Regions from separate parts of the Homo sapiens genome. Here region 1 is linked to region 2. The links come from fine-mapping of genetic effects on gene expression. A gene starts in region 2. The other region holds a variant in brackets. All regions are shown on one strand. Distances are from middle to middle. Region 1 overlaps PLCL1 (phospholipase C like 1 (inactive)). Region 2 holds the start of PLCL1 (phospholipase C like 1 (inactive)).

Region 1 (5,384 bases), 300 kb before region 2:
TTTCAGATTTTTGTTACTATAGCACAACCCAGCATACCCCAACTGATACAAGAGCATAGAGACAAAACAAAATTTTCCCAAAGACACAGAGCTAGGAAGTGTCTGGCTGCAGCGTCTGTACACTTAATCACTTTGCCTGCTGTTTCTCAATAATTGATAGTATAATAATATCAATATTAAGGATGGTTTATTATTAATGCATTATTGTTGTTGTTTGGAGGTCTGTTTCTACACTTTGTAAATATACTTTTTTTTCTGAATACTCAAAAGGAATCCTAGCCTTTCTCTAGATTCTACAGCAACAACAGCTGGCAGATGCCAGAGACACCACTGGAAAAGTTCTCAATAGACAATGTGGATGATACTGGGCATGTTCCTTCTTTATATACCCTCAGGCAGCCCCCAAAGGCATGGTCACTATGTCTGTTGGAAGAGCCTGGTTTGAACATTCACACTAACAGCCCCCTCTCCACAGTATCTCATAGAATGATTTTAAATATCTATGGCCAGTAAGTGAAGGGTAGCCCACTTCTCACTCTCACTCAGCTTTCAGAGATGGATGCCTCTCCTCATACTTCTTTTCCCATTAGCCCATCATCTGTTTCCTTTCTTTTGTCTCTCAACAATGAACAGAGACTTCAAATGTGTTTTCAGGCTCTAATTGAAAGCGTATTTCTACACTGACATCCATGTAATTTCCTCTGTTGTAGCAAGATTCCCCAGAACTGTAAGGTCCTGAAATTCGGGAATTCAGTGAGGGAATCTGCCTGGGTTAGAAACATAACTACACACGGAGAAGTGAGAAGCTTCAATCTCTGCTCTTCCCACGGAAATTGAAAATGTTTTAGATAAAAGCAGAAGGAGCAAAGGCTTAAGTAGTGATAAAAAGCAAAAGCGTTATGGGGAAAAGTAATAGTCACATATACTAAACATAAATTTATAAAAGCAGCCCAGAATCATGGCACACATTGGAATGCATTAAATTATAAGTTGGAAATCTATCCAGGAAAAGTGTAAATACATATTTAATAGGAATGACCATTGAAGAGGTAATAGTTATATTCATTTTTTATTTATTGCCTGTTATTCAACAAGTAATCAATGAAAGTCATGAATAAATAAGAAGGGCAGCTACTTCTTAACCCTTTTATTTCTCTTTAAGCTCTAGTGATTACCTACTTCATAGTTTTTCCTTTGTAATAAAATATTTATTAATTATATTTCTTTAATATTATTTTTATATATCTCTACTTGATACTTCTCCAGCCTGCTAAAATTGATTTTTACATAAAACTTTTAAAAACACAAAGTAATAAAATTTAGTTTCTTAAAATAGCCAACAGGACAAGTTAGAAAAATATATATTGGGAAAGCTCACTAAAATGCTCCCCTTGGGTTCTTTCTAATTTCAGTTTTATAGATGTGATCACCTTTACAATGCAGTTCTTTTTGTACTTAAAAAGTCAAATCACTCTGGATAGAGTTCAAGACTTTAGATGAATTCCACTTCATTGCAAATAGCATTTTATCAGTGATATAGTGTAATTCCACATCTTGCTCCCAAGAGATCTTCAGAACTCTCATGAGTGAAACACTTCCAAAATTACTAACAATGTACTAGAATATGTTGGCTACGTAAGTGAAGTTGTAGTATCCCTTTCTGAAAGCCTTAAAAAACAGGAAAAATTTCCATTTTGAGATTTTAATATTATGTTAACAACCAAATGTCTATAGTTTGAATGTTTGTGTCCCTTCCAAAATTCATGTTGGAACTTAATCCCCAATGCAATAATATCAAGAGGTAAGGCCTTTAGGAGGTGATTAGTGCCCTGTAAAAGGGCTGGAGGGAACTAGCTAGGCCCTTTTACCTTCTTTTGCCTTTCTTTCCCTTCAGCCATTTGAGGAGACACCGTTCCTCCCCTCTGAAAGACGAAGCAAGAAGTCACCATCTTGGAAGAAGAGACTGTGCTCTCACCAGACACTAAATCCACTCCTGCCTTGATCTTGGATTTCTCAGCCCCAAGAACTGTGAGAAATAAATTTCTGTTGTTTATAAATTACCCAGTCTCAGGTATTTTATTATATCAGCACAAGAAGGACATCATGGAGAAGAAACAGAGGGAAAGGTCTTTTAACATGTGAGGGTGGAATGGAATGGAGTTATTTTGATCCAGTGATTGTCTTGAAAAGGTAGTGAGGACTGAATCATCCTATCATCCTAAATAAACACAATGGCTATGTAAGGAGACCAATTTCATGTACAATAGTGAAAAAGAAAGAAAGGAAGAGCAAATTGACTGCTACAGTTGGATATAGACATATGGCAAAAGTATGGAAAAATGCAAAAGATACGCTAAACAAGTCCCTATACTGGACCCACGTAGGTGCTAGAATATGAATTAAAGAAAAACACAAGTGTGGGATCTTCCAGAAGCACCTTGATTTCAGTTTCCTTGCTAAATACTAAGTCCTGGTCTCTGCAACAATTTGGACACTGTAATTATAATTCTTATTCATTATATTGTCGTTAGTCATTTTTCTTTCTGCAATTTTTTTCTCCAGCTTTTAATATCAGATAAATGTAATATTGAACTGCAGAAAACACTAAACAATTTATTTTTCAGTCTCAGCTCAATTTACTCTAAAGCCAATGCCCCTTTGCACCACTCCATGCTGTCAATCCCCCAACTTGCTGAGGGCACATTTCTCATTTTTTTCCAGCTCCTTCCTTACTTATTGGAAATTACACTGGAATTAAATATTTTTAGAAATACAAACCAACACATTTAACCAGAATTGGTTAATTCCCACTCCCTCTCTCTAGATAGTAGGGAATACTAGTCTAAATCATGTATAAGGAAACTTTTTCAGTAGGCAACGCAGAATTGTACCACAGCCTCCTAATTCAGTGATTATGTCTTTCCAGGATGGTTATTAATCATTCAACCAACTGGAAGCAAGGTAAATTGAATCTACTAAACTTATAAACAAAGAGCATTTATTAAAATACTTAGAGGAGCTCTGAAAATCAATAGCAAGTCTGGAGAATTAATTGGGAATCAAGTGTTTCAGATCTAATGCATAAGAACTAAAGGAAGAATCGTA[T/C]AGAAAAAGATATCTTCTTAGAGCAGCACCACTGGAATAAAAAGTCTCCAACAGAGCCCAGGCTCTTTTTCTCTCAGCTAATAATTCAAATTCAAAGGAGGTCATTTGTCCAGCTCTTGGGGAAAGGACACCAGATTAACAGGCCCCAAACTCAATGGAGGAGAAAAAGGAGCTATTGGAAGTGTGGAAATGTTCTCTACTCTTGTTTAGTAGTAGTCCACTACTCTAGTGCTCAAGCTGAAATACCAGCAGCTAGTATGTGAGTTATAATAATAGAAAATCAATTCTGTCTGAAAAGCTCTCTCTTGGAATAATTTGAACAGCATTTGCTCAATCACATCTAACAATCAGCTTCTGTTACTAAACCAAACAAAAACATTAAGAAATCTCTGACAACACTAAGTGGGCTTAAGTCAGAAGTTAACAAAGAAATAAAAATAACAAAAACCTCATTTCTCCATGTTTATCCTCACCTGGCAAACAAACAAATAACAGCTAACATATATGCTGTCTAGTTTTGTGCACTGTGACTTACATCTTTTGTATGTATTATCTCATTTAATTCTCACAAAATCTGAGATGTAGGTATTATTACTACCCTGAGGGAGATTATATAACTTGGCTAGTCTCACCACTATCAGGTAATCACACAGGGCCTGCATTCTTATTCCTGCACTAGGCTGCCTGGACCCAATGGGACTGATATGGTTTGGACCCAAATGTCATCTTGAATTGTTGTTCCCACAATCCCCACGTGTTGTAGGAGGGACCTGGTGGGAGGTAATCAAATCATAAGGGAGGTTATCCTCATGCTGTTTTCATAATAGTGAGTGAGTTCTCACAAGATCTGATGGTTTTATAAAGGGCTTTTCCACCTTTTGCTCAGCACTTCTCCTTGCTGCTGCCATATGAAAAAGGACATGTTTGCTTCCTCTTGCACCATGACTGTAAGTTTCCTGTGGCCCTCCCAGCCATGCTGAATTGTGAGACAATTAAACCTCTTTCTCTTATAAATTAATTACCCACTCTCGGGTACGTCTTTATTAGCAGCGTGAGAAAAGACTAATACAGGGACTCAGCCACATGGATGGAGTTTTAGAGGAGGCAGAACAGTGTAGTGGATAGAACCATGGGCGTGAGTTAAAAATTGCAGGCTGGCTGTTTACTAGCTGTGTGACTCCAGGCAAGAAATTTCAACCCCCACAAGCCTCAATTTCCTCATTTGTGAGATGGAGAGAGTCCTATCAGAGTCAGCATGTCATGTTGCAAGATTGCACTGTTGTGGCAAGGAAGAAAGGGGAAATGTACATAAAGTACCTAGCCTTGAGTGCTGATCACAAAATAAGTGCTGAACAATTGATGGCCATTATTAGTTACATGTCTGTCTCTCCTTATAGACTAGTCTTGGAGACCCAGGTAATCCTCCTGATATTTGTATCCCTAGCACCTTTCTGTGACAGGCACATTAACAAGCCCATATAAAATCTTCTGAACATAAAATGTTTATATCAGGGTACACACTGCCACATTATAATCTAGGGTTATAATAAGCACCTCTTTAACACTACAGCTCTAGGTCATCCCTGCTCCTTAAGCAAATGATGCCTTATCCATCCCCCTCCTCCACTGGACTCAGACTGCTAACTTCATGAGGTCAGGGTCTGTATCTCATGTTCTCCACGTATTCCCAGTGCCTAGCACAGAGCCCAATGCATAGTAGGGGCTTATCACTTGTGGACTGAATTTTTAATAGACATTTGTAATATGTCTTACAGCTAACCTAACACTTTCACATAAACATGTGCAGCATCTCTGCAGCACAGGTTAAAGACACAGGGTCTGGAGCCAGACTGCCTGAGCTTAAAATTTAGTTACACCATTTACTAGCTGAGCGCCCTCAGGAAATATACACAGACTTCCAATGCCTCCGTTTTCTCACCTGTAAAATGAGATTAATAACGATACTGAGTTGGTGTGAGTATTAAATTGTTAATTCATATAAACCTCATAAAACAGTACCTAGCACAAAATGAGTGTTCTTTAAATGTCAGCAATTATTAATTTTGTTTGTAGCTATTTTTCTCCCATTTAGCTGTCAAGAATATATTGTCTGCCTAAATCATTTCTTTTTTCATGTAAGAAAATATAAAAAGTGGCATATTTACTTCAAAATTCTAAAATTCATGTGCAGCAGAGAGCAAATCATAATCTCAAGAAAATGACTTCCAAAGTTATTTGCAAAAAGAAATGTATTTATAGGAACTGTTCTTAAAATAAAA
Region 2 (5,384 bases):
TTGCAGTGCCTGTTTTACACACACAGGACACCATGTAGTATCAATACAGTAGAATCCAAAATGTATGTGTTTCCTAATTGTGATGTTTTTTAAGTTTGAAAACAGTGTGCTTTCTGACCTGTGGGTTAAAAACAAAATAGTAATTTCCCTTTGTCCAAATTCACACCCAGAATAGAACACTCCTGTTACATAATCAAAAAGCCACAAAATAACAGAAACTACTACAAGCCATTTGTAATTACCACCCACTCTTCTTTATATATTATAGAAACCTCTCCACTGATTTTAAACTTCCATGTGTCAGTGTTGGGAAAAAGACTTTACTGGAGCCACATTCTGTGGTTAGTCTACCTAAGCTGGTGCTGGGAGCTTGCAACATGCGTGATGCACTGGTTACGCAGCTTAACCCTGAACAGAGCTTTTGAATATATTAGTGAACCCAATAAATTCAATAGTAAGTAAAAGTCCATCTTTCATTGTCATTGAGGGATGTGTGTGTGTGTATGTACACACACACATATATACTTACATATATACATACATACATATCGTTTTATACTGACTGCTCCACCAAAATCAATTTTAATCTGACATACATTTGATTGATTACTCACATGCATTTACACTGAGGCCCTTTTCCAGAGCCTGTGCGAGGGTTCTTTCCTAAATAACCTTACCCCAAAGTCATGCTCCCAAAAGAGGAAATCTCGAACAGAAGAAACAAGCCCCAAGTGGAAGGAAGATGGAAAGAGAAAGGGGAGGAAAGAGGTTTACAAATTCCTTGCCAAATGGATGGAGAGAAATTCTGTGAGGTGATTAGCGGGTCAGGAAGCGTTTTCCCTGGATGTGGTGGTAACCACAAGGACCAGTGATAATGCTTGGGGGATTGATTGCTTTCCGGTTGTGCTTTCTGCAGCGCAAAAACTCTGGGCTCTTGCATTGCTCTTTACTGTGATGCAGGGTCCACTTAAAACTCTGCCTCCCTACCGGGAAAGTTCACACATCTTGGGATTTCGGGATCATTTAAGTCTAGAGGGATTCTTTTTTTACACTTGAGAGTAAGCTGTGCATTTTCTTCATTGTATGGGAAAAGCTAACCCTTCATTGGAAAGCAATGCACAACCATCCGGTGGGTCTGCATTTATCCAGAGTTCTCCCTTCCTCCCTCCATCAACGGTTTAGTGAAGCTTGCAGAGAAAATGAGGGAAAGCATCCATCAGAACGCAAAGACGCAGAGCGGAACTTTTCCTCTGCCGTCAGTGGGGAGAAAAAGTCACTTGTGCGTCTCGTGGCTGACAGCTGAGTCTGGGAACCTCCGGATAAGGAAGGAAGGTTTGGCGTTGAAGGAGGTGGGAGAAAACAATGCTGAGCCCGGATGCCTCCGGACACCGCACATCCTGCCCGGGTCCCTGACCCACCCATCACCCACAGCCACGCTCCCGGTGCGGCGCGGCTTTGCTTACCTTGATGATGCTGCTGCGCCGGGGGGTCGCCCGTGCTGCCTCCAGGAGGCCCGCCTCGCTGTCCGCTGGGGTCCCCGCGGCGCCTGGCAGTGCGACCCCGCTGCGACGGTCCCTCATCCGGCCCCCAGAGGCCGCCGTCACGCAGTCCCCGGCGGCATCCGGGCCCACTCGGGGGTCGTCTTCGCCCCCCGCCGCGTCGGGCGGCGCCGGATCCTCCCTGCCGGCCGCGCCCTCGGCCATGGCCTGGAGCGTTTAGGGCTCCCCGGGGGAAAGCGGGACGCCCGGCAGCGGAGTCCAGCCGCTAGGCACCGGTGCGCTCCTGCACCGGGAGGCGGCCCCGCCAGACTTTGTTTCACCGCCCAGCGGCGGCAGTGGCGGCGGCGGCGGCGGCGGCGGCAACTTTCTGGAGAGGGGACATCGCTCGGGCAGAGACGTCCTCGGGCTTCGGTCTAGGAGGCTAGCAGTCCGGCGGGGGACGGTGGCGGGAGTGGGGAGGCGATGTGAGCGGGAGGCAGAAGGAGAGGCGAAAAAGAGAGGGAGGTATCCGAAATGTGATGCAAACGCCGGCCCTGCGCCAGACAAAAGGCACCGGGCGCCCAGCCAGGCGGCCTCTGGAGCCCGGACGCCGGCGGCCCGATAGGGGCCAGAGCCGGGCGACTGCGGCCGGGCGCACCCGCCACCTGCCCGCGGACTGCGGCGCAGCGGTCCCAGGAAGTGCGGCGGCGGCGGCGGCCTCCACTCAGCTCTGTTGTGACAGGGAGGGAGACTTGTTTTGACAGCCCTTGGGGATTGGCAGGCGTCTGGGCCTCTTAGGAGCCTCGCCTCGCCGAGGGGGCTCGGCCCGACCAATCCTCACTGCGGAGGGGTGTGCCCGAGCGCGAAGAATGGAATGTGTTCTGCAACTGGGAGCCGGCCCAGCGGGGCTAATGTACTCGAGCCAGGGTGTACCCGCGCGCGCGCGTGTGCAAACCCGGAGGCGCTCCGTGTATATTTTAGGAAGTTTAGATTTGCGAAATGAGCCTGAGATGCAACAAAAATCCAGGTTGGGTGAAGGAGAGGGGAGAAAGAAACCTTCTTCTGCCAAACAAAGCAATTTGGAGGAAAGTGGGTATTGAGTATGAATGTCTAAGCGTTTGGGGTGACGGGGTGAAGCTTTGCGTGGTCACAGGTTAATTGCAGGCTCTCAGGCCAATTCTTAGAAGTCAAGTCCATGCAGAGATAAACTAGGGTTTACTGGGATCTTGGGGTTCCATAATTTGCTTCAGGTTCCAGGAAAGGATTCTAAGGTCATTCTGCAGTGTGAGTAAATATAACAAGGAAAGGGAGTCAGTGAAAGAGATGAGGGTGAAAGGAAACTGAACCAACTAAATCCCTCCGAAGACTGACTCTTAAAAAGCACAGATATAATCCAAGTCAGATAAATGCAGGTGGGGAGTTTAGTCTCTATCCTAAAACATTCCTATTTGACAATGGTTCAGCCTCCTTTCTCTATATAATCCTATATAAAAACATATTTTGCTCATTTCCAGTAAGCTAGCAACCAAGAAGGGAGAGATCTTTGGATGATGAGTTAAGTCACTGAAATTATCCACAGAATGCTCAGATGCAAACCATGGTCCTAAGGCTCCCTGGTAAGACAAAAGACTTGGCATTTTAATTTTAAACTCCTTTGATATTAGAATCTATATTAAACCTCACTTATAACATTACATTTTATCTTATTAATAATTTAATAATTTGAGATTTTACTTGTTCCTTAGTCTGGCTAACAGCATGAGAAATTATTCAGCATTTTAGACCAACAATTTGGTTTGAATCTCATAATTTTAGAGATATATGGGGATTTAGGGATCAACTAGGACATCATTTTTGTTTTACGGTTGAGACAAAGGCCCAGGGAGTCTTGTCTACTAGTTAGTGCAGGAGCCAAAATTAGAATCAGCCACCCAACTCCTCCGATAATCTCTTCACTACTTTATCTGTCTCCTCTGGGCTACAACCAGCCAGAACTGGCAGGGGCACTTGGGAGGTTTCAGATTTGACATTTATCAACTACTAGGGAATACTGAGAAGGCTTGACTTTGCCTTTTCTTTAAACATAAATGCAGCCTAGTAATGAATGTACTGTAGAGAGTAGCAGTGACCTCTGGTTTTAGAACCAACACCACCCTCTAGTGAGATTCTGAGAACTGCATCCATAACAGCAAAGGCTTCTTTTTCCCCCTCATCTTTAAAAGACAGGAGGGGTAACCCAACAAAAGTTTCCTTTTCAACAGGTATGCCTTTACAACGCACAGACTAGAGGAAGAAAATAAAGTGTACCCAGACTTAAAACAACCATACATGTCTTCCATCTCCTTTAGTTCAGGGAATTCCTGTCTATGCTATATAGGAAATATTTTTAATTGCTATCCTCAGAAATATATCTTATTTTAGGCTATCATTTTTTTCTTTGATATTCAACTATTATTACATTTGACTTCTGTCATTTACAGTTGTCAGTGCTTCATTTTTCTTTGTTACTCTAATAAAAGTCCCATTCTTCGGTTGTCCTCTGAAAAATGTAAAACTGCCTTTATCTCACTCATTATCTTGTTATAGGATATTAATGTCATTTATAAGTTCCTCATCCTACAGATTTGTGTACCATTATGATAATAATTTATTTTTACAAATTTTAAAATTAGCATCACTTTATTAACAAACATTCAAGGTCAGTGATTTAAAAAAAAACAGAGGCCAGAAAGTACAGCATATAACTTGCAAAATGTTGTATCTTTCAACTAGACAATGTCTAGTTGGACTCTTTTCTCTTCCTTGGCATCCTTCCCTCTCACCCTCATGTGAAAGTGCACACACACACACACACACACCCCTCTGATTCCTTTGCTCTGAGCCTCTATCCGTAAAGATTGTTGTCTAAATTACTCTGCTTTGATAAACTAGTTGGACCCTAATCTAGCAAGTCGTTTATATTGTTGTGTTCCAGCATAAGCTCAGAAGGCTTTTCCTGATACTCATGTTTGCAATTGAAAAAAAAAAAACCCCTCCTATGTACTTGCTCCTAGCCAGGAGCAGATTCTGCTTTGTGGACCCACTTCAAAAACTGAAAGAGACTAGCTAGTTTCAGTTAAGTCAGCAGCCATGGGCACATTCCTACCCCTGCATTAACAGTCCCTCTTTCCAAATAGCTGTCACCTACAATTCTTGCCTCCCAACCTTTTACCAAGTCATGGTGACAATTGCTAGATTGGCAGATTGGAATTTGGGGGTGAGCAGGGGTAGGAAGGTAAGATATGAATAATAGTAACGAGCAGGAAATTCAAATGTTACTACGTCAGAAAGGACTCTCTAACTACAAATCTCAAGTTGCCCCTACAAGCCTCAGTACATGTCAGTCATATTGTGTTTTGTCTTCTCACAGGATTTTATCACTGTGAACAAACTGTCTTTTCCGTGGAATTGTTTACTTACATATTCTGTTTTACTTTCCCCCTATCTCTGCTTCACTGAAATGTAGAATGCCATCTCCATGTGCCTAAAGACCTTGCGATTTTATTCATTGCTGTATCTCCAGCTCCCAGAACTATGTCTGGAACAGAGTAAGTGCTCAATAAATATTTATGGACAGAGGACTTTTGCAGTCCTGTGACTAAATAAAATAATCAATCTGATAAAGAAAAATGGTTCTGTCACTGTCTGCATGGTAGAACTTCTCATCCTCAAGGATCCTAGAATTCCATTTTAGAGCAGAAATCAGAACAGATCCACACCAAGCAGCTACAAATCTCAGAAGAAGGGCACTTATTAATTGGAATGACTTGAAATCTAGAATTAGACTGAAATACAACCAATAAGAACTAAGCAAGTTCTAGCAGTCCTGAAAATACCTAGACCAGACTAAAAGACTAGATATGTCAA

The links. PIP is the estimated chance that this variant, and not a neighbour inherited with it, causes the effect.
Region 1: its variant is the best candidate, but not a certain one, in a credible set for the expression of PLCL1 in monocytes after Pam3CSK4 (Quach 2016, PIP 0.53).

The regions. Positions count from the first base shown.
Region 1 is chr2:198,105,781-198,111,164 of GRCh38, reverse strand. The region is part of intron 5 of PLCL1 (phospholipase C like 1 (inactive)); the gene reads right to left. Among named protein-coding and RNA genes, the nearest start is that of LINC01923, 270 kb to the left of the region's middle. The variant T/C (reference allele first, on the strand shown) is at 3,106.
Region 2 is chr2:197,801,419-197,806,802 of GRCh38, reverse strand. PLCL1 (phospholipase C like 1 (inactive)) reads right to left here and starts at 2,210. Exons shown (of 6, transcript NM_006226.4): 1 at 1,464-2,210. The coding sequence starts at 1,703. LOC105373828 (a long non-coding RNA gene) reads left to right here and starts at 2,257. Exons shown (of 4, transcript XR_001739850.3): 1 at 2,257-3,094; 2 at 4,984-5,065. RefSeq lists a silencer at 2,034-2,163.